Linked DNA regions of Homo sapiens. The protein of the gene in region 5 purifies or fractionates together with the protein of the main gene of each other region. This does not show direct contact. Each region holds a gene or a part of one and is shown on either strand. Other genes may lie near its edges.

The links.
Region 1: the proteins of H2AB2 (region 5) and RRP12 purify together in Homo sapiens (affinity purification with mass spectrometry, with the first as the bait; one large-scale study listed by BioGRID). This does not show direct contact.
Region 2: the proteins of H2AB2 (region 5) and DHX36 purify together in Homo sapiens (affinity purification with mass spectrometry, with the first as the bait; one large-scale study listed by BioGRID). This does not show direct contact.
Region 3: the proteins of H2AB2 (region 5) and RSBN1L purify together in Homo sapiens (affinity purification with mass spectrometry, with the first as the bait; one large-scale study listed by BioGRID). This does not show direct contact.
Region 4: the proteins of H2AB2 (region 5) and MPHOSPH10 purify together in Homo sapiens (affinity purification with mass spectrometry, with the first as the bait; one large-scale study listed by BioGRID). This does not show direct contact.
Region 6: the proteins of H2AB2 (region 5) and PINX1 purify together in Homo sapiens (affinity purification with mass spectrometry, with the first as the bait; one large-scale study listed by BioGRID). This does not show direct contact.
Region 7: the proteins of H2AB2 (region 5) and THAP12 purify together in Homo sapiens (affinity purification with mass spectrometry, with the first as the bait; one large-scale study listed by BioGRID). This does not show direct contact.

What each region holds. Positions count from the first base shown.
Region 1 is NC_000010.11:97,394,841-97,398,340, forward strand, and holds part of RRP12 (RRP12-like protein), read right to left. Parts: intron 1,462-3,500; coding exon 1,378-1,461; intron 1-1,377.
Region 2 is NC_000003.12:154,317,988-154,321,487, reverse strand, and holds part of DHX36 (ATP-dependent DNA/RNA helicase DHX36), read left to right. Parts: intron 1-3,500.
Region 3 is NC_000007.14:77,748,459-77,751,958, forward strand, and holds part of RSBN1L (lysine-specific demethylase RSBN1L), read left to right. Parts: intron 1-965; coding exon 966-1,606; intron 1,607-3,500. UniProt on the Homo sapiens protein: Lysine-specific demethylase that specifically demethylates methylated lysine residues of proteins.
Region 4 is NC_000002.12:71,147,634-71,150,601, forward strand, and holds the end of MPHOSPH10 (U3 small nucleolar ribonucleoprotein protein MPP10), read left to right. Parts: intron 1-365; coding exon 366-473; intron 474-1,589; coding exon 1,590-1,820; intron 1,821-2,232; coding exon 2,233-2,382; 3' UTR 2,383-2,468; downstream 2,469-2,968. UniProt on the Homo sapiens protein: Component of the 60-80S U3 small nucleolar ribonucleoprotein (U3 snoRNP). Required for the early cleavages during pre-18S ribosomal RNA processing. Part of the small subunit (SSU) processome, first precursor of the small eukaryotic ribosomal subunit.
Region 5 is NC_000023.11:155,379,347-155,381,799, reverse strand, and holds H2AB2 (histone H2A-Bbd type 2/3), read right to left. Parts: upstream 1,092-2,453; 5' UTR 1,014-1,091; coding exon 666-1,013; 3' UTR 501-665; downstream 1-500. UniProt on the Homo sapiens protein: Atypical histone H2A which can replace conventional H2A in some nucleosomes and is associated with active transcription and mRNA processing.
Region 6 is NC_000008.11:10,826,376-10,829,875, forward strand, and holds part of PINX1 (PIN2/TERF1-interacting telomerase inhibitor 1), read right to left. Parts: intron 1-3,500. UniProt on the Homo sapiens protein: Microtubule-binding protein essential for faithful chromosome segregation. Mediates TRF1 and TERT accumulation in nucleolus and enhances TRF1 binding to telomeres. Inhibits telomerase activity. May inhibit cell proliferation and act as tumor suppressor.
Region 7 is NC_000011.10:76,371,133-76,374,632, reverse strand, and holds part of THAP12 (52 kDa repressor of the inhibitor of the protein kinase), read left to right. Parts: intron 1-3,500. UniProt on the Homo sapiens protein: Upstream regulator of interferon-induced serine/threonine protein kinase R (PKR). May block the PKR-inhibitory function of DNAJC3, resulting in restoration of kinase activity and suppression of cell growth.

The DNA.
Region 1 (3,500 bases), on a different chromosome or scaffold from region 5:
CTTTAAAAATGTAATAACCAGGCTGGGCATGGTGGCTCATGCCTGTAATCCCAGCACTTTGGGAGGCCAAAGTGGGAGAACTGATTCAGCTCAGGAGCTCAAGACAAGCTTGGGCGACATGACGAAACTCTGTCTCTACTAAAAATACAAAAATTAGCTGGGCATGGTGGCAGGCGCCTGTAATTCCAACTACTCAGGAGGCTAAGGCACGATCATCACTTGAACACAGGAGGTGGAGGTTGCAGTGAGCCATGATCACACCACTGCACTCCAGCCTGGGCAACAAAGTGAGACCCTGTCTCCAAAACAAAACAAACAACAACAAAAAAACCCAAAAACAAAATAAAAAGTATATATATACACATATACACACACACACACACATACATACATACACAAATATATTTATTTATTTAATGTAATAAGTAGGCCAGCCATGGTGGCTCACACCTGTAATTCCAGCACTTTGGGAGGCTGAGGTAGGGGGGATCACCTGAGGTTGCGAGTTCGAGACCAGCCGGGCCAACATGGTGAAACCCTGTCTCTACTAAAAATACAAAAATCAGCCAGGTGTGGTGGCGCACGCCTGTAATCCCAGGTACTCAGGAGGCTGAGGCATGAGAATTGCTTGATACCATGAGACAGAGGTTGCAGTGAACTGGGATCGTGCCACTGCAGTCCAACTTGGGCAACGGAGTGAGACTCTGTTTCAAAAAAAAAAAAAAGTAGACCAGGCCTGGTGGCTCAGGCCTATAATCCCAGCACTTTGGGAGGCTGAGGCAGGCAGATCACGAGGTCAGGAGTTCGAGACAAGTCTGGCCAACATAGTAAAACCTCTTCTCTACTAAAAAATACAAAAAATAAGCCGGGTATGGTGGTGTGCACCTGTAATCCCAGCTACTCGGGAGGCTGAGGCAGGAGAATCACATGAACCCAGGAGGCAGAGGTTGCAATAAGTTGAGAACATGCCATTGCACTCCAGCCTGGGCGACAGTGTGAGACTCCGCCTCAAAAAAAAAAAAAAAAAAAGTAATAAGTAGCCAGTTGCAGTGGCTCATGCCTGTAATCCCAACAATTTGGGAGGCCACCGCAAGATGACAAGACGGTTTGAGCCCAGGAATTTGAAACCAGCCTGGACAACATAGTGAGACCCTGTCTCTTTAAAAAAAAGAAACAAAGAAAGAAAGAAAAGAAAAGAGAAAATTAAAAGGTAGCAAATACCACCAGCCTTCCTAAGCCACCTGAGAATAACTGAAGCACTTTCACCTGGTCAAGGTTGTCCTTCTCTACCCCCACATGCCAGGGGCACTCATCTTCTCGCTAAATCTTGCATAACCTGCTGCTCTGAACACCCACCCTCCAGTGGCACCCACTCACCAGAGCAGCGAAGTACTCAGTCTCCGTCTCCTTCCCTCCCTGGGAGCGAATCACCTCAGTGACAGCAGCCAGAACAGCACAGATCTGCACAGGAGGGAGAAAGCACTGTGACTATTTTAGACCTAACCCCACCCCAGGGGAACCTCCTTTCCTTGCTCCTTCACAGATTAATCTCTGGTTAAAGCCCAGAGACAGACAAGACAGGCAACATTCAGGGCCTAGGTCCATACCAGGGGGCCCAGCAAATAACAAGACTCAGAAAATGCTTGCTAAAATTCCACCATGAGGTACTAACCTTCTAGAAATACCTGCATGAGATGAGTGTGCAAATATTTATGTACAAGGATGTTCATGGCAGCAACAAATTGGAATGGTCAAGAAGCCATCAACAGGAGATTAATAATGTACTGTAGTTGTCTCTAATGTACTGCAGTTATCGAGGGGGGGATTGGTTCCAGGACCCCTAAAGATACCAAAATCCGAGGATGCTCAGGTCCCTTATAAAAAATGGTGTAGTATTTGTGTATAACCTATATACATCTTCCCATATACTTTATTTATTTTTTTTGAGATAGAGTCTCACTGTTAGCTAGGCAAGAGTGCAGTGGCATGATCTCAGCTCACTGCAACCTCTGCCTCTGGGTTCAAGCAATTCTCCTGCCTCAGCCTCCCAAGTAGCTGGGATTACAGGTGTGCACCACCATGCCCAGCTAATTTCTGTATTTTTAGTAGAGATGGGGTTTTACCATGTTGACCAAGCTGGTTTTGAACTCCTGGCCTCAAGTGATCTGCCCTCCTTAGCCTCCCAAAGTGCTGAGATTACAGGCATAAGCCACCATGCCTGGCCTCCCATATACTTTAAATCATCTCTAGATTACTGGTAACACCTAACACAATGTAAATGCTATATAAATAGTTGTTATACTGTATTTTTGTTGTTGTTGTTGTTGTTGTTGTTTTTGAGACAGAGTCTCACTCTGTCACCCAGGGTGGAATGCAGTGGCGCACTCTCTGCTAACCGCAGCTTCCACCTCCCGGGTTCAAGCGATTCTCCTGCCTCAGCCTCCTGAGTAGCTGGGATTACAGGCATGTGCCACTACGCTAGGCTAATTTTTTGTACTTTTAGTAGGGATGGAGTTTCACCATGCTGGCCAGGTTGGTTTTGAACTTCTGACCTCAAGTGATCTGCCCGCCTCGGCCTCCCAAAGTGCTAGGATTACAGGCGTGAGCCACCTCGCCTGGTATATTATTATTATTTTAAAAAGATTTTTCAATCCATGCTTGGTTGAATCTGCAGGTGCAGAACCCGCAAATATAGAGACCTGACTGTATCATTATATAATAATGAAAAATTTAAATAGTGCATTATTCAAAAGAATGAGAACAACTATATATTAACTTATAAATATCGTTCAGTAGGGAAAAAGTTGCAGAACAGTGGATAAAAAATAAACTAATCAAGCAGGGCACAATGGCTCACACCAGTAATCCCAACACTTTGGGAGGCTCAGGTGGGCAGATCCCTTGAGCCCAGGAGTTCAAGACCAATCTGGGCAATATGGCAAACCCCATCTCTACAAAAAATACAAAAATTAGCTTGGTATGGTAGCACTCCCCTGTAGTCCCAGCTACTTGGGAATTGGAAGGCTGATCAGCCACTGCACTCTAACCTGGGTGACAAAGTGAGACTCTGTCTGAAAAAAAAGAAAAGAAAAGAAAAGAAACTAATCACATTTTGGTAAACCTAAATAACAAAATTGGGTAAAAAAAAATACGTATATATATATACATATATATATATATATGTATATATATATACGTATTTTTTTTTTTTTTTTTTTTTTTTTTGAGATGGAGTCTCGCTCTGTTGCCCAGGCCGGACTGCGGACTGCAGTGGCGCAATCTCGGCTCACTGCAAGCTCCGCTTCCCGGGTTCACGCCATTCTCCTGCCTCAGCCTCCCGAGTAGCTGGGACTACAGGCGCCCGCCACCGCGCCCGGCTAATTTTTTGTATTTTTAGTAGAGACGGGGTTTCACCTTGTTAGCCAGGATGGTCTCGATCTCCTGACCTCATGATCCACCCGCCTCGGCCTCCCAAAGTGCTGGGATTACAGGCGTGAGCC
Region 2 (3,500 bases), on a different chromosome or scaffold from region 5:
GGCTATCACCTAACTCAGGGCAAGGTATTTTAGAAGATTTTTCAGGGACAGTAACCCTTAAGTTGAAACTTGAAAGATAACAAAGTGAATGTACGTGTGTGTGTTTGAAGTTTGGGGTTTGGAAAAGATTCCAGGCAAAGGCAGTAGCATGTGCCATAACATAGAGATCAAGGAAGCACATTTTCAGTTCGAGAAACTGTAAAAGATAAGAACATGGATGTGGAGTGTATTGAGATGAGGTTAGGGCAGTCAATTTCAAACTTGTTGGCCACTTTGCCCAAAAAGGAATGTATTTGAATTTACAACCCAGTACACACATATGTATAACTAGATGAAAAGTTTTGTAAAATAATATTTAATTATCTGCACATTGCTTTGAGGTTTTTTTGCTTTTGAACTTCTCTGTTCTCTTTTTATTAATGCTGGTCATGATCCTTTAATATAATTTCAGAAACAGCAATTTGAAAATCTCTGGGCTAGAAAAATACGCGGGGCCTTGAGATACATTGAGTCTTTCTAAGGACTGTAGCAAGTCATTAAAACATTTTAAACAAAGAATGAAATGACTGGATTTTAAATGTTTAAATTCACTCTGGTAGCAGTATAAGGAATGGATTGAAGAGAGGTAATCCTGGTTCAGGGGGACCAGTGAAGTAGCCCTTGCAGTAACTAAGGTGAGAAATGACAGCTTGAATTAGCACGTTGGCAGTGGAGATGGAGGGGAGTGGACAGATTAAAGTGATTTAGGAGGTAGACTCAAAATGATTTTGTGATGTATTTTATCTGAAGGGACGAGTACAGTGTTAATGATGACTCTTTTATGCCTATCTGTAAGGATCAGGCTTGTTGGAAGAAGGCTCAGCTATGGACACTATGAGTTTGATATTGTTATAGGGCATACAAATGAGGATTTGCAGGAGGGAGAGGGCTGTGTAGATCTGATGCCTAGAAAAATCTAGACTGGAGATAAGTATTTGACAGTTAATGGGCTCATGGGTAGTAGTTGGAGTGTGGGAGTGAACAGTCAGAAATAGAGTGGGCCCAGCCTGAATTCTATAGACCATTGCTTCTCAGACTTGAATGTGCATAGGAATCACCTGACATCTTGTTAAAATGTAGGACACTGGTGGGATCAGAGATTCGACTTTTGTTACAGGCTCCCAGGTGATGCCAGTGTTGCTGGTCTGTAGATCACTCAGGCTGTCAAATACGGAAAATGAAAATTTAAGGACAGGCTGAGGAAAAGAAGGTTACAAAATAATCTAGGAAAGATCAGCTAGAGAAGAGAAAAATAAGGTGTGTGTTGTTTTGAAATCTAAGAGTAGTGTTTAAAGGAGAGAAGAGCGTATCAACAAGAAGTAATTGATAGTGGCAAGCATGCACAAATGATGTAAGAGCAGAGAATGTCTATTGGATTTATCAACAAGGTCGTTGATGATCTTAATGGGAGTCCTTTCTGTGGCATTGTGGAAGTAAAAGCCAGATTGCGGTAGGGTGGCAAGTGAAACAGAGATTCAGAAGTGGAACATTTTCCAGTAGTTTTGCTGTGAAGATGAGGAAGAAAAATAGTGCCGTAGCTGATAGGGGTAGGGGAATTCACGAGAGGGTTTTTTGTTTTTAAGGTGAAGAGATTTGACCATGTTCATGCCCTGAGGGAAGCACCCAGTGAAGAGGAAATCAAAGTGGGCAAATCAAAGTGGGCCAAATTATGCTGCAGTAATAACCAACCCCCAAATCTTAATGGTTTATAACAAGCAAGGTTTGATTCTCTACCACATTACTAAAAGAAGCAAACCAGAATATCGGTTGACTGCCTAATGTCTACTGGAGAGGTTAGAAATTTAGGAAAGCAAGGTAAATTTCAGTGAAGGAGGTGGCCCTGAGGACATGAAAGGAACTGGACTGCAGAGCTCAGGTTGAGGGGTTAGCCTTTAAAATGCACTTCTTTTATAACAAGAAAGAAAAGAGAAAAGGATAAATTCTGATACAGGCGGGTTTAGGTTTGGTGATAACCAACTGAGGACCTTTTCTTAGGGCTTTTGTTTTGTGAAAAACTGCGTGTGAATGCTGAGGGCAAACAAAAGGGTGGTATTGGCCTGTTACAGAGAATGGGGAGACAGTGTGAAGTAGTTGCAGATAATTAGAAAGCTGATAACATAAATTTGATGGACATCATTTAGGGTTTCTTGCCAGGAACTGAAAACTAGAAGCAGGGTATTTGAGAATGTCCAAGAAAGTGGGAAATAATCAAAATTCTATGATAAAAGAAAATAGTCATGAAAAAAATGTGTTTTGAGATTCTCCAGGCAAGGAGTGAAATAAAGTGAAGCGTGGTAGAACTAGAAGAAGGTTGTTGAGGGGGAGAGAGGCATCCTACAAAAAGGCAAGATCCAAGTTTGGAATTAAGGTATGTTCTCTGCTACCTGCAGCATCCAGAAACTCATTGTGGGGAGAACATCATTAAAAATACAAATGTTTTTATTTAGAGTGTAAATTACATTTTCAAGGGCTAATCATACATGCTCATTGTAAAAGATTCAGCTGTTCATTCCTTCCATTGACAGACTTCTCTGGGGCACATACCATGTACCAGAATTATATCTGGCAGAGACACTGCAAGAAGTATAGGATATGGAGAGTGAATAACCTCTTTTCAAATTAATAGTAATAAAAACAAGATCCTACTACACAACTGACTTATTTAATACTTTGGTCATCTTTCCTGTTTATATACTTGCAGAAAGATCTACCCACTGTTAACCACTGGGTGTACTACAATTCAACTAATTCCTTATTGATTAGCAGATGCTTACTTGGTACATATGCATTGTGTAAGGTATCTTAAAGTCTACCAACTGATGTTGACTTTTTAATGAAAATGAATTTTGTTGTGATAGTTTGGACTGGAAGATTGTGTAGATCTGTTTATTTTCAGTAGACTGTTATGTTATCCAGTAATTCACCTTTTCCGGGGGCGTGAAATCTCATAAAATTAGAATAATCTTTTGTGCTGTTACGGGCAGGAAGTGGGCAATGTATTGTGAAATGTCAATCTAGGAAATTGTTTACTAAACAAAATATAGAGTAATGAGTTAACATGGAAAAGTGAGAACTGTAGGAATAGCAGATATAGGTTATATTCTAACTAAACAGATACATCAAAAAACCTTAAGAGGACTTTTAGTAGAGACATTTTATGTCCTGACAACTGAAATTAGCCACTCATTTTCACTTCAAAAAAGGAGGTAACATATAGTTCATTTGCTTTGCTTCTTCAGGTTTGTTGTTTTATCACTGATTTCTCATATTTATTACATTAGGTTATCCTCCTACCCATGTAAACTTATTTGAGCTTTCACAAAGCATGTAATACTGATTAGAATTAGAATGTCTTACAAAACCCTGTCTCTTGTCTTAAAGATGCTTATGTCTTGTTCTCCTGGGACACATACTCCTCTACCCACCCTGGGTTTTCAAACTTTATGTTAAACTTTGTTGTG
Region 3 (3,500 bases), on a different chromosome or scaffold from region 5:
AGACACTAGGCATAGATGATTCTTTTTTTCTTTATTTTTTTCTTTTTGGGATAGGGTTTCGCTGTGTCACCCAGGCTGGAGTGCAGTGGCACGATCTTGGCTCACTGCAATCTGCCTCTCAGTTCAAGCAATTCTCCTGCCTCAGCCTCCCGGGTAGCTGGGATTACAGGTGCTCACCACCATGCCCAGCTAATTTTTGTGTTTTTAGTAGAGATGGGGTTTTGCTCTCTTGGGCGGGGTGGTCTCGAACTCCTGACCTCAAGCAATCCACTCACCTCGGCCTCCCAAAGTGCTGGGATTACAGGCATGAGCCACTGCGCCTGGCCTGAAGATTGTTTTCTAAAATATTCATTCATCTCCTTATTTCTGTAAACTGTGAGCATTTGCTATATGTCAGAATGGTAGCACACACTGTAGATGTAACTTTGCTCTATGCCCGTCTGTCTGTCTGTCTGTCTCTCTCTTTCTCTCTCTCTCTCTGTCTCTCTCTCGCTGTGTACATGAAGAGACTGGCTGGCTGGGTGTGGTGGCTCACGCCTGTAATCCCAGCACTTCGGGAGGCCGAAGCGGGCAGATCACGAGGTCAGGAGTTTGAGACCAGCCTGGCCAACATGGTGAAACCTTGTCTCTTCTAAAAACACAAGAATTAGCTGGGCATGGTGACGCGCTCCTGTAATCCCAGCTACTTGGGAGACTGAGGCAGGAGAATTGCTTGAACCCAGGAGGTGGAGTTTGCAGTGAGACAGGATTGTGGCACTGGATTCCAGCCTGGGCGACAGAGCAAGACTCTGTCTCAAAAAAGGCTGACTAAATATTGATTATCAATTCTGTAAAAAATGAGTCCTAAATATATAATTCTGAGTAAATTTTCAGAAGTAAACTTCTTACTTAGACAAAACTGTTCCTAAAGCATGGTTTTTAAAGTAATTAAAATATGGAGTTTCAAAAAACATTTTTTCCAACAGGTGGGAAGGAGAAACCAAAAACAAATATAGAAGACTTACAAATTAAAAAGGTAAAGAAGAAAAAGAAAAAGAAACACAAAGAGAATGAAAAACGGAAGCGTCCGAAAATGTATAGCAAATCTATTCAGACCATCTGCTCAGGATTGCTAACTGATGTTGAAGATCAAGCAGCCAAAGGCATCCTAAATGATAACATAAAAGATTACGTTGGGAAGAATTTGGATACCAAGAACTATGATTCCAAAATTCCAGAGAACAGTGAGTTTCCATTTGTCTCATTAAAGGAGCCACGAGTTCAGAATAACCTCAAAAGGTTGGACACTTTGGAATTTAAACAACTCATTCATATAGAGCACCAGCCTAATGGAGGTGCATCGGTTATCCATGCCTACAGTAACGAACTCTCCCACCTGTCTCCTATGGAGATGGAGAGGTTTGCAGAAGAGTTTGTGGGTCTAGTGTTCAGTGAAAATGAAAACTCTGCAGCTTTCTACGTGATGGGTATTGTTCATGGGGCAGCTACTTATTTACCTGACTTTTTAGACTATTTTTCATTTAATTTTCCCAATTCACCAGTGAAAATGGAGATATTGGGAAAGAAAGATATAGAGACAACGACTATGTCCAATTTTCATGCTCAGGTAAGAGGTTTTTAGTTTTATAAAATAACTTTTAATTATATATTTTTAGATGAGTTTCTGTTTTTTGTTCCTAATTATAGGGCTGAAATAAAAAGGTAAGAATATAATGAAACCATTTGGGAGTATTAAGAGTAAATTACTTTCTTGATGTGAGCATCAGAATTTAAAATTCAATTTTCACTTATGTATGTTTTTTTTTAAAGACAATTAATGAAATAATTAAGATTCTGTGTTTTTTTTTTTTTTTTTTTTTTTTTGCAAGGAGTGGTCTTGAACCTAAGGAAATGAATTTAGCCATGTATTTTCCAGTCCTTAAATAGTTTTCTTACCTGGAAATCACCTAAAATTGTCTTCTAGCTTTAGGATGCTTTAAGGTACTTAGCACCAGGCCCATCACATGGTAGGTACTGAAGAAATGTTGGCCATTAAAAATATTGTGGTATGAAGGAATCATCAGTTACTGTGTAATGATGTGTTAAAAGTAGCAATCAGTATATTGAGCTAATTTTCATTTCCTACCCTTCTCTATGGTGGAGAATATATATTATTCTGGAAAGCAGACAGAATAGAGTCTGCTGGGTCTTGAACATCAGTGTGGGCCCATCTGAAAGGCTGGTGCCATTATCACCCATCCTCAGATTGGGACTGTTTAGTCTGGAGATTGGCCAGTTCTCACATTTATTGATGCTGTAGTTTTTGGTTTTCTAGGAACGGTTTTTGGTTTCTAGGACAACATTCTAGTTTGGAAGGAGGGAAAAAGTAAAGGAAGTCTCAAATGGATCTTAGTGATTATTTATCCCAACACCTCTCAATTTACAAATAAGTAAACAGACGTAGAGAGAGAGGAGTAAGGTATTGTTTAACATTGTCAGCAGTGTCAGGATTAGAACAAAATCTTAATCTTCATCCAGGGCTCCTTTCCTTATTCTGAATATGTTCCTTTTTGGATGGGTGCTCAAGTTATAGTTTCCACTTTAAATGGTAGTCTGGATGTTCAGTCACATCCACATGTACCCCGCCCCCAATAGTATGAGTATGTTTGGTGTATATTCTGTAGTAGATTGTAGTCTGGAAAATAATGTGGTGTTTTTTTGTTTTTTGTTTTTTGAGATGGAGTCAGACTGGAGTGCAGTGGTGCGACCTTGGCTCACTGCAACCTCTGCCTTCCGGGTTCAAGCGATTCTCCTGATTCAGCCTCCCAAGTAGCTGGAATTACAGACATGCACCACCATGCCTGGCTAATTTTTGTATTTTTGGTAGAGACAGGGTTTCGCTATGTTGGCCAGGGTGGTCTCGAACTCCTGACCTCAAGTGACCTGCCTGCCTTGGCCTCCCAAAGTGTGGGGATTACAGGCGTGAGCCACCTCGCCCGGCCTGGAAAATAATTTTTAATGTGCGTATGTGGGAATTATTCTCTAACATGTTTGAGAATTGAAAATTAAATATTTTCTAAACTAGATAGGGAGCTATAGAGCATCCATTACTAGCCCTGTCATTTTATAGAAACCCAAAATGGTGAGTTACTTGTCTGAGGTTACACCTGAATATAATGGCAGAATCAGGACTGGCATCTAATAATAGTGTTTACTATTTATTGAGTACTGACTGTGCCAAGGACTAGTTGTTCTGAGTATTTTATATGTAGTAACTCATTTAATCCTCATTATAATCTTACTTTAGCAGTGAAGAAACAGATCCAGTGAGAGAAGAGATAACATGTTCAAAGTGCCTTATCACCTTATCATTCATTTGTCGTTTATTGCATGTCTCCTAAATGTCCGGTTTTCTATTGGGCCTCTTGGCTCCCATTCCCGGTTATTTCCACAATACCACAAACTTTCTTGCTTTGATACTATGCAAGTTTGCTTCAGTAACCTTTTAAATGTGACAGTAC
Region 4 (2,968 bases), on a different chromosome or scaffold from region 5:
GTGCACTCCAGCCTGGGCAACAGAGCAAGGCTCTGTCTCAAAAGAAAAAAAAAAAGAAAAAGAAATACATGCTGTTGGAATGGTTTTGAGACAGAAAACCCTAAAATACCCAGGTCTCTGGGATCCTGAAGCAGTGCTGCCCCTCAGCACTGCCGTCATGCCAGTCCACTTAGGACTTTGGCTGTCACCATATCTAACATTTTAAATAGTCTCCATTAGGTTTGCTGACTTTCAAGCAAGTGAAAAAAAGATAATCTCCATAAAGTATTTTATATATTATACTTTAAGTTAATAGGTTCACAGTTCACACATTTTGTGTTAGAGTCCCTTCTGGCTTCCCATTGAATGTATTATCTCTTTTCTAGCCTGTACCAGAGATTAAAGTTGTGTCAAATCTGCCAGCCATAACCATGGAGGAAGTAGCCCCAGTGAGTGTTAGTGATGCAGCTCTCCTGGCCCCAGAGGAGATCAAGGTAAGAAGCCAATGTTGAAACCTTAAATGTCTGTTACAAGTTAGTTGATCATAGCCAGACTCCATTTATTTGACGTCATTTGCCTTGCACTTGTAGTTCTTATTCCAATGTATCTCAGCAGTTTCTAAGTATAAGCAAACTAGTAATGTTATAATATTCAAATACCAGTCTCCTATATTCTGGCTTTATTATGAGGTACAGGTTTGAGAGTTACTGTAAGAGCAGTTTTAAAATAGCTAGTATCAATATCTTATTATAATCCAATCTGAATACTAGCAGTGATGTTAAGTTGAAAACAAATGGCTTGCATTGCATATATACTAGCAATAGTTTAGTGTCAGCATTTCCCCCTTATTTTATTCATGTAATGCTAATTAGTAATGGAATCTGAATCTAGAATCGAGCATTTGGTTATCAGAAGAGGCTAGATATATCAAATGCAGCAATCCCTGCCATGTGAACATTGAAGCTTATGCCTTACACAGTAATAATGGTTTCTGCCAGGTGCTCATCTTCCTGGCTGGCTTAGCAGCAGGGCCTTCTTTTTCCCTCCTCACTTGATTTGCTACACCTACACTCACCCCTTCTGTCTGAGCCTCTGCCACCTCAGTGCAGGTGACAGCCCTGGCAGGATAGGCTGGCAGCTGAGGAGAAAAGAGATAGAATTGATCCTCACTAGAGAGATGTTTCCCTTCCCTTCCTCTGTTCCTTGGTCTCTGCCCTCTGGCCTCAGTCCAGTTGCTGTCATTAGCAGCTCAGAGCTGAGGCTGCCTCTGGCATGTCCCTGAAGCCCATTGGAATCTAAATGCTGTGGAGGGCTGGCTCCTCTTGTGCTGTTAGGTTGAGAACCCAACTCTCCATGTTGCCTTCTTGTGAATTAGTTTGGGAACTGAACCGTCACTATAAGAGTCTGTGCCTGTCAAAGAATGCATTTCAGGTTTTAAAGAGCTGAGTTACCAACGCTCATTGGAATGCAGGTGGGGATTGCTCTGCATCTTTGTGCATTTGGCCACAGATGCACAGCCTGCTTGCTGGCTACCCTGCAGTTTCTTCCATTCCAGTTTCCTAGTTGTTAAACTTGATGAATGAATATGTTGGTGGTTATTTTTTTAATAGGAGAAAAATAAAGCTGGAGATATAAAAACAGCTGCTGAAAAAACAGCTACAGACAAGAAACGAGAGCGAAGGAAAAAGAAATATCAAAAGCGTATGAAAATAAAAGAGAAGGAGAAGCGGAGAAAACTGCTTGAAAAGAGCAGTGTAGATCAAGCAGGGAAATACAGCAAAACAGTAGCTTCGGAGAAGTTAAAACAGCTGACCAAAACTGGCAAAGCTTCCTTCATAAAGGTAAGGACAAGGGAAAGAAAACTGCTCAAGGGGACCTTTGTGGGGGAAGTGGATAGCAAGTGCTGGGTGACTGGAATGTCTGAGCCAGCTGACAGCCCACCTGCGGGATAGAGATGCATGATGCTGACTGGCTGGAATCGCAACCTTTAATGTTCTAGAATTTTTCATGTAGGGTCCTCACAATAACCTGGGTCCTGGCAGCAGCTTGTCTTCCACTCCTTTCTCTCTTAGATTATAAGAACATTGTAGCAGTGCAGAATACCTCTATGCTAACTGATTCAGTTTTCTGTAATTCTAGTCCTTTTTCATATTTATGGTTGCATACATTGTTGTAATGGTGATGTACTATTTTTGGCTTTTTTCACTTATAAGTACATTTTACAGCATAAGCATGTGGTGTTTTTAATTGCAGGATGAAGGTAAAGACAAGGCCTTAAAGTCCTCTCAAGCATTCTTTTCTAAATTACAAGATCAAGTAAAAATGCAAATCAATGATGCAAAGAAAACAGAAAAGAAAAAGAAGAAAAGACAGGATATTTCTGTTCATAAATTAAAGCTGTAATATATTTTGAATATAATGTAAATATTAATGTGTAAGCTTATATTGTGTCATTGTTCTGTTTTATAATAAAATTCTTGAGAACCTTCCTTTGCATCGATGACAGATATTTGAGGGTTCCATAGTGTGAAAAGACAAACCCCTAACCATTTGCAAAGCCCTTCCGGTTTTCACTGGTATGAAGCAGGACCTGGCTCCTCCCCAGGCCCTTCCTGTTCAGGCACTGCCTGAGCTGATCCTGCTGTGCTCTTGCCGTGGCCCAGGCCTGTGTGAAGGCCAGGCCAGCTTGTCCACATGGGCTGGTGAGCAAGCACTGGCCTGCAGGCTGTGAAGAGGACAGAGCCAGCCAACCCCCTCACAAGCAGCTGTCTACAGCAGAGGTCCTCACTCTTTGGGCTCTTGATTTCCTTCTCCCATTGCCCTGTCATTTCATAAAACAGTAGCATTTTCATGCCTGTGCCTTCCTTCCCCTTTGGGAAATGATCTCATGTCATCTGAACAAAGGTTTAATGTAGGCTGTAGAGCACTATCCACAATCAGCTGCAGAGGACAGGTATGATGGAGAAGTGAATCTAGAAGCAACAGAAGC
Region 5 (2,453 bases):
TCCCACAGCCTCTCCATCTGAACATGACCCAAAGGAAACTCGTGACCCTAATTCCATGTCTGCGCATTTCTGGACTGTTGTCCCCCCCCCCCCCCCCCGCCCCGACTACTCAGTCCTCCGTCTTCCGGTCCAGGGCCCCTTGCCAAGCACCGGGTCCACCTCTCCGTCCCCACCCCGGTTGCCTTAGAAGTCCGTCCTGTCGCAACACTGCAGTCATGGTCTTGAGGCCCACCCGCCCCAACGAACACCATCATGCTGAGGACTTTCCCGGGCAGGCCCTGACTTGCTCAGAACCAGCGGGGGTGTCCCCTTCCCACCCAGGGCCACTCCCCTGCACTGTCACCCGGAGAGACGGCTCCTCTGTGCCATCCCTGGCTCCCACCCAACCCCAGACCCCCACCACCTCTCCATCCCTCCAGCTGTGGAGGTCTCACAACCCCCCAACCCATCTCACCGCCCCCCCACCCCCACCCCAAGGCAAAGTGACTGAAGCGGGCAGATGGCTTCCTTGAAACATTTTATTGACAGAATTAATGAAGGCCCAAGACTTTGGGGCCTGGGTTGTGGGGGGAGGGTGTTTAAGGCCGGGGGTTCAGGCCGGGGGATTTGGGGCCGGGTGGGTGGACGAGTGGACCTGTCAGGTCCCAGGGGCCGGGTGTCAGAAGCTAGTCCTCGCCAGGGGCCACTTGAGAGATGGTGGTCGTGTTGAAAAGGGTGCTCAGTAGCCTGTCGTTGTGAACCACCATGTCCAGCAGCAGGGGAGTGATGTTCCGCTCTCCGCTGTTCTGGGCCTCGTTGCCCGCCAGCTCCAGGACCTTGGCCGTCAGGTACTCAATAACCGCAGCGAGGTAGACCGGCGCCGTGCGACTCAGGCGCTGAGCGTAGTGGCCCTCCCGTAGACTGCGCTCCACCTGGCTCACTGAAAACGAAAGCTCCGCTCGGACGGTGCGAGAGCAGGTCCGCCCCCGGCCGCCAGCACCGGAGGACCCTCGGCGTCTCCTCCTCCTCGGCATGCTGGGCGTTGAGTGTGCTATCTCGGCTTGGCCCAGCTAGGCAAGATGGCTCTCAAGAGGACAGTTACCGCGTCCAGTACTGTGTATCCTAGCGACCAGGGCCCAGCCCCTCATTGGCTAGGGAGCCGAGACCAATGGGCACGCACATCCGGCGACGGGCACGCATGTGGTGACGGCCCCTCACAAGGGACACACGTCCGTCAGGTGACCTCATCACTTTCCCATTGGCCTCGAGGGAGCAGGCCTGGGCCTAGAAGTGGCTGGAGGGCCGTGGGGGTGGGGTGGGGCGGGGCAGGGGGAATCGCGCTGGTGACCCTCTCTTTGCCAGTGGGAACTTTCCCTTTCTACTGGATGGGAACACCGTGGGAAAGACAAAGGGGTGGGCGAGGGGAGGACGGGTACCACGCCTTCACAATGTTGCACATCCATCACGACCACCTAGTTCCAAAACGTTTTCAACACCCCGAAAAGAAACCGAAACCCCTGTACCTATAAGCAGTCACTTGCCGCACGCCTCCTTCCACACCACCACTACCAGCCCCCACACCCTCCCACACACACCCCCTGCCCCCGCCCATACACACGTTCCCGATAGTCCCTGGCAACCCCTAGTCCATCTGCTTTCTGTCCATAGAGGTTAGCCTGTTCTGGAGATTTCCTATAGATGGAATTATACGACCAAATGTGAGGCCGTGTGTGTCTGGCTGCTTTCACTTAGCGTAATGGTTTCATCAGGGTGCATCCATGTAGAGGCATGAATCACTACTTCCTTCCTTTGAATGACTGAGTACGATTCTGTTGTATGAATAGGAGGCCACATTTTGTTTACCCACTCGTCAGTTGATGGACAGGTTATTTCCCCCTTCTGGCTATTGTGAGTGGCACTGCCATGACCATCTCTCTACAGGTTTTTCTTTGAATATCTCTTTTCAGTTCTTTTGGGTCTATTTCTAGCAGTCAAACTGCTGGCTCGTGTGGTAATTCTGTTTAACTTATTGAGGAACCACCAAACTGATTTCCACAGCAGCTGTAATCTTTCGCATTCCCAACAGTAGTGCATGAGAGTCCCAATTTCTTCACAGCCTCATCAAAACCTGTTTTCTGTTTGCCTCATTTTGTTTTGTTTACAGTAGCCATCCTACTGGGTGTCAAGTGCTATCTCATGGTGGTTTTCATTCGTATTTCCCAAATGGCTAATGATGTTGCTGTGGTTTGAGTGCATCCCCCAAATTGTGTGTCTTGGAAACTTAATCCCCAAATTCACATGTTGATTGGAGGCGCAGCCTCTGAGACGGTAATTAGGATTAGATAAGGTCATCGGGGTGAGACCCCCAGGATGCGACTGGTGGCTTTATAAGAATAGGAAGAGAGGCCTGAAACGACATACACGCTCTTGCCCTCTCGCCGTGTGATACCCTCTGCCGTCCCCAGATGCCGGGT
Region 6 (3,500 bases), on a different chromosome or scaffold from region 5:
CTCTGCAACAGCACCCTTCTGCTGGATCTCTGTTTTCTTTCTAGGAGTCAAATGATTAGAAATATTTCCTTAATTTGCATACTATGGATCAGGCCAGGCTGCCCTCCAGAAATTTAGAAAATCCTTGAGGAAGAAATGGAAACTTGTGTTCACACAAAACCTAGACACAAATGTTCACATTAGCCTTATTCATCATAGCAAAATACCAAAAATCACCCCCAAGTCCTTCAACGTGTGAATGCATGAACAGCTGAGCAACCCCTGGGCCATCCTTACAGTGGAATACCACTCCACAGTAAAGAGCGGCGGCCGCTGCCACCGCAATGGCCAAAACAAACTCCAGGGCATTGTGCTTAGTCAGAGGTCCATCTACAAACATAACATATGACTCCATCTACAGAACATTCTCGACATGACAAAACTACAGAGAGAGAGGACAGATGAATGGTTTCGAGGGGACAAGGATGAAGGTACAGTGGGTACAAATACAAAGATGAGGCATGAGGTTGCTGTGCCGTGGTGGCCAATCCTGTATCTTCACCATTGTGGTTGCTGCATGAATCTGCACTTGTGATAAAATTGCACAGAACCATCCGCCCATGTACAAATGAATGGAGACCAAAAAAAGATGATGAAAACTGGCTAAGGTTTGTGGTGCAGTTGACAGTAACACCAAATGTCAACTTCCCGGTTGCGAAAAGCCACAGCAATGTAATGTCTCTCCACCCTGGGAGAACAGGGGGAAAGACGTTCAGGACTCTCTGAATTATTTTGCGAATTCCTACAAGCCTGTAATTATTTCAAAATAAAAAGTTCCTTTAAAAAGTAAATAAAGGTAAGACAGGTTAAATGATCACCTAAATACAGATCAGAGATGACGATTAGGTGACGCATGGAGGAGCAGCAATAGCTCCAAGCCACCTTTTCAGGGTTTCGGGAAGGACAACTGGAAGGGCAAAAGGAGCAGGAACACACCATTGAGGAAGACATCCGAGTGGTAACGCCTTTGACGGAAGGGAAAATGTGAGCCAGAAAGTAGGTCCTTGCCTGAAAGGTTGATCAGAGCAGGTTGATCTGGGGTTAGAGTCAATTATAAATTAGCTAGCCACCTGCATTCTCTCACCTGTATCTGCTTGTCAAGTTCAGACAGAAGAGTGCCACAGAAACGATCATAGGCAGAAGAGAGACTAAATTTTCCTACAGTTTTAAGAACATTCAGATATGAGGTTAGAGAAACTGGAAAAAAAGCAGCCGGGCGCGGTGGCTCATGCCTGTAATCCCAGCACTTTGGTAGGCCGCAGCAGGCAGATCATGAGGTCAGGAGATCGACACCATCCTGGCTAACATGGTGAAACCCCGTCTCTACTAAAAATACAAAAAAAAAAATTAGCCGGGCGTGGTGGCGGGCACCTGTAGTCCCAGCTACTCAGGAGGCTGAGGCAGGAGAATGGCGTGAACCTGGGAGGCAGAGCTTGCAGCGAGCCGAAATCACGCCACTGCACTCCAGCCTGGGTGACAGAGCGAGACTCCATCTCAAAAAAAAAAAAAAAAAAAATCCAACAAACCAACCTTCTTCAGAGGATATAAGAGAAATTGGAAAAAAAGAAACTCTCACCCTGACAGTGGAGCGAAACAAGCACGTGTCCATTCAACAACATGTGACTGCACTGCAACCCCTCCCAGGAGTCACTTATTTCAAAGGTATAGTTCCCTATGGGAACTATACAGCAGGCTCGAAAGAACGTGAAGGCAGATGTTCCGCACTTGAGGCAAAGCCCAGCACGGGCTCATTATTTCCACAAGCTGAAACATTCTCTTCTGCAGCCACTTCCCAGGGACACCTTGGATTTTTTGCAAAGACATCCTACCAGTAAATTCTTCTCTTTTGCACTTCATATGGCACATAACATTTTCAATGCTGATGTTCCAATCACAAATCACAGAGGAAGTTATCAGCTTAAAGCGGCTCCTACCGACTGCAAGTGTATGAGGGACGAGGCGCTGGACTGGAGGCTTTCCATGAATTCTTGGATTTCCTTCCCACAGCCACTCCATAAGAGAGCTGCTGTGATGCCTGAACTCACTACAGAGGACGACACTGATAAGGCACACCCAGGAAGCCCCCGCGATGGGACCGAAGCCCAGGCAGACATGACGCAGAGGCCACATCCTGAAGCACCACGCCGTGCCCTCACAGAGCAGCTCTCTCAGCCTTGAGAGGGCAGAAGAATCACCTGGTGAGCGTCTCTACCTTCTCAGCATGCAGGTATCAAGAAGGATGCGTGAGCACCGCCAGGCCTTGAGGAATCACTTTCTATCTATTTGTTCACGTGCACTCATGCCTGAAACTGCTCGGAGTCTGACTTATGCACCAATCTGGCCGTCCTTTCCCGGGTATCCCCTCCCACTTTACAAAGGAAAGGCACAACTTTCCTCTTACCGGGATCAATGAGGGACAAGGGAAAATACTGTTGTCAAAGCAGCAATCAAAGCAGCTGGCCCGGCCCTCACACCCCTACGCTAACCCAGCTCATCAGGAGGTGCACTGCCAAAGAGATGTGTTTAATAAGCATTCATTAAAATGTATAACAGATCTGCTAATTTTATTCACTGTGATCTACTAATCATGAGGGTAGGTGCAGTGGCTAAAGCCTGTAACCCCAGCACCTTGAGAGGCTGAGGTGGGTGGATCACAAGGTCAGGAGTTGGAGACCAGCCTGACCAACATGGTGAAACCCCGTCTCTATTAAAAATACAAAAATTAGCCAGGCGTGGTGGTGTGCACCTGTAATCCCAGCTACTCAGGAGGCTGAGGCAGGAGAATCGCTTGAACCCGGGAGGCGGAGGTTGCGGTAAGCCAAGATTGTGCCACTGCACTCCAGCCTGGGCCACAGAGCAAGACTCCATCTCAAAAAAAAAAAAAAAAAAAAGAGAGAGAGAAAATAAAACCCTAGATTCTTTATGAAATCCTTCAGAGTAAAGTAAATTTTCTGGCCTTAATCGTGGTTTATGGCTCTAGATTTGCCAGCCACACTATCAGGAGGCTTACAGTGCTGAGTATCTCTGCTTGCTTTTCTTAGATGTTATAATGCATTTAGTCCTCACAACAACCTTCCAAAGATGATACTACTGCTTCCATTTAACCAAAGAGGAAATCGAGGTACAGCCATGTTCAGCAATTTACCGAATGTCATACAAATGAAAAGTCAGACCAGGATTAAAATCCAGGCAGTCTAACTCTGGTGTTTGTCTCTAAACCACTGCATTCTATTTAATCTCCAAGTCTTATATGTTCATGCTTACATTCTTACATTCTTTTTTTTTTTGGAGATGGAGTTTCACTCTTGTTGCCCAGGCTGGAGTGCAATGGCGTGATCTCGCCTCACCACAAACTCCGCCTCCCAGGTTCAAGCGATTCTCCTGCCTCAGCCTCCAAGTAGCTGGGATTACAGGCATACGCCACCACGCCCAGCTAATTTTGTATTTTTAGGAGAGACAGG
Region 7 (3,500 bases), on a different chromosome or scaffold from region 5:
GATAAATTTTGTGTTGTGTTTTCTAGAATTTTCTAAATATTATTCAGATCTGAGTGTTCAGTAGACATTTTCTCAGAAATAAACAAGCCTGCCACTTCAAGGAGAACAACTGATAATTTGAGCATTCAAGTTGAAAATTAGAATTTTGGAAAATTTATGTGCCACTGTGAGCTTGACAGCTCTCTAATACTTAAAGACTTTTCTGGTGAGATCACTGATGATACTGATGTGTTTTTTTTTTTTTTTGTATAATGAATTGCATTAACATTTATATGGTATGTATAACTCACTGAACTAATATTTTCCAAATGACCAATTTATGGTTTTACAGAGACATACATGGATAAAAGTGCAAGATAGACTATGGGATTTTTTATGTACTAGGGCATGAAAAAGCTCATTGGTCTGGTCTCAGATGTCACATTTCAACTAATCTTGAAGAAACTACCACTTGTGGAGAATTCACAATTATATGGAAAAAAGAGGAGTATTGTAATAACCTTTTTAACTGCATATCGTTATGAGGCTAGATTTTCTTCATATATTTCAACCAAAACAACATATAGCAATAGATTAAATACAGAAGCAGATGTGAGAATCTAGCTGTCTTCTGTTAAGCTGGACGTTAAAGAGATTTGCAAAAATGAAGAAGTGTCATTTTTCTCACTAAATATTTTTGTTTTGGAAAATGCAATTTTTTATTAAAACGTTATTTGTGTTAACATAAGGTTGGTATTTTAATGAATTAATAAATATTTTTAAAATTTTTCTGATAAATGTTGTTAGGTAAAATCCACATAAAAGATCTTTGGAGTCCTCAATAATGTAATAGTGCAAAGGAATCCTGGGACTATGAAGTTTGAGAATTGCTGCTCTAAAATGTGAGCAGCAAATTTCAAACTTTTTTTTTTTTTGAGGGGTCTTACTCTGTCACTCAGGCTGGAGTGCAGTGGCAGGAGCATGGCTCACTGCAGCCTCAACCACCTGGGCTCAAGCAATCTTCCAGCCTCAGCCACCCAAATACCTGGGACTATAGGTGCCCATCACAACCCCCGGCTAATTTTTGAAAAAAATTTTTTTTAGAGACAGGGTCTCACCATGTTGCCCAGGCTGGTCTTGGACTCCTGAGCTGAAGCATTCCCCCCTTGTTCAGCCTCCCAAAGTCTTAGGATTGCAGATGTGAGACACCACGCCCAGCCTGAAGTACTTTCATATCAACTCATTTAATCTTCCAAACAATGGGGTGAGTTGTAATAATAGTACTTCTTTTTCCTTTTTTTTTTTTTTTTGAGACAGTGTCTCACTGTCACCCAGGCTAAAGTGCAATGACACGATCTCCAGTCATTGCAACCTCTGCCTCCTGCGCTCAAGTAATTCTCCTGCCTTATCCTCCCAAGTAGCTGGGACTGCAGGTACATACCACCATGCCTGGCTAATTTTTATATTTTTTGTAGAGACAGGGTTTCGCCATGTTGCCCAGGCTGGAACAGTACTTACGTAGTGTATTCTTTGTGACAGGCACTGCTCTGTTATATACTTCTCTGTTATATATACATTATTTCATGTTACCCTTGCAGTAAATTTTGAGGTAGTCCTTGCTTTACAGATGACCAAAGTAGGTACAGAGAGGTTAGCTAACTTTTTTAAAGGCCCTGCAGAAATGTCTAAAACCTTAAGAGCAGGTAGGACAGGATAAAATAGGTATTACCCGAACTTTTTTGACCGTGGAACCCTGTTTTTTTTTTGGAGACAGGTTCTTATTCTGTCACCCAGGCTGGAGTGCAGGAGCACAATCATTGCTCACTGCAGTCTCCATCTCCCAGGCTCAAACAATCCTCCCATCTCTGCCTCCCAAGTAGCTGGGGACCATAGGCGCACGCCACCACACTTGACTAATTTTTTAATTTTTTATAGAGACAAGGTCTCCCTATATTGTCCAGGCTGGTCTTGAACTCCTAGCCTCAAGTGATCCTCTTGCCTTGGCCTCTCAAAGTGCTGGTATTATGAGCCACCATGCCCGGTCCCTTTTTTTTTTTTTTTTTTAAATGTAACAGTTCTGACTGGGCATAGTCACTCAGGCCTGTAATCCCAGCACTTTGAGAGGCTGAGGCAGGAGGATGGCTTAAACCCAGGAGTTTGAACTTAGAATGAGCTATGATTGCACCAGTGTGCTACAGCCTGGGCGACAGATTGAGGCCCTGTCTCTCTCTCTCTTTTTTTTTTTTAGAAGCAATTCTTTGAACAGGATTCCTTGGAATACACTTTTAGAAATGCTGCATTAGTAAGAAACCAATGAGGGAAAAACATCAAAAACAAAACAAAGAAGTAATCAGTGATGGTTGACTAGTGCTGAAGGTGTTTAAGGTGTGTACAGAAAGTGGCTGCACGCAGTGGCTCACGCCTGTAATCCCAGCACTTTGTGAGGTTTAGGCGGGAGGATCGCTTGAGCCCGGGAGTTTGAGACCCACCTGGGCAACATAATGACACCTCTTCTCATTACTTTAAAAATGAAATAAAAGATAGGCCAGGCACGATGGCTCACGCCTGTAATCCCAGCACTTTGGGAGGCCGAGGCGGGTGGATCACCTGGTCAGGGGTTCGAGACCAGCCTGGCCAACATAGCGAAACCCCATCTCTACTAAAAGTACAAAAATTAACCGGGCATGGTGGGGGGTGCCTGTAATCCCAGCTACTCAGGAGGCTGAGGCAGTAGAGTAGCTTGAACCCAGGAGGCAGAGGTTGCAGGGAGCCAAGATTGTGCCACTGCACTCCAGCCTGAGCGACAAGAGCAAGACTCCACCAAAAAAAAAAAAAAAAAAAAAGAAAAGTTAAAAATGAAATAAAATCTGTACAGGAAAGTGACCGTTGGATTTGGCAGGATAGGGTCGTTAGTAATTTTCTTGAGCAGTTTCAGTGGAAAAGGGATAGAGTAGGAGCCTCCTTGGCATTGATTAAGGAGACAGTACAACAAGATAAGTGGATGCAGTCCAAATGGATGCTTTAACAAGTTTTGCTATAAAGAGGATCAGGATTAAGAGAGTTTTAAAGATGGGAGACATTAGGGCATGTTTACACTGTGGGAATAATATAGTAAGATAAATGTAGGGAGTTGAGATATTATACATGGAGAGGTGGAAAGTCTTAAATGCCTGGAGTTTTCTGTGTGCATACATATTCATACACATACACCCACATATATGTACACATGTGAGTCAGGAAAACTTTCCCTCAAGAAATGACATTTGCGCTAAGATCTGAAGGCTGAGTCATAGTTAACTGTGCATAGGAAGTGTATAAAAAGCAGCAAGAAGAGTGTAGTAGGCTGAGTAAACAGCGCAGGGAAGGCCCCAGGATAGAAGTGAACACAGTTGTTTATCCTGAGAGTAATGAGAAGCCACTAAAAGCTTAAGCATGGGAGAGACATTCTCAAATTGGCTTTAAAAAATGCTCTGCAGCACGGAGAAGGGGTTAGAGAAGGGCAGATGACCAGTTTGGAAGAG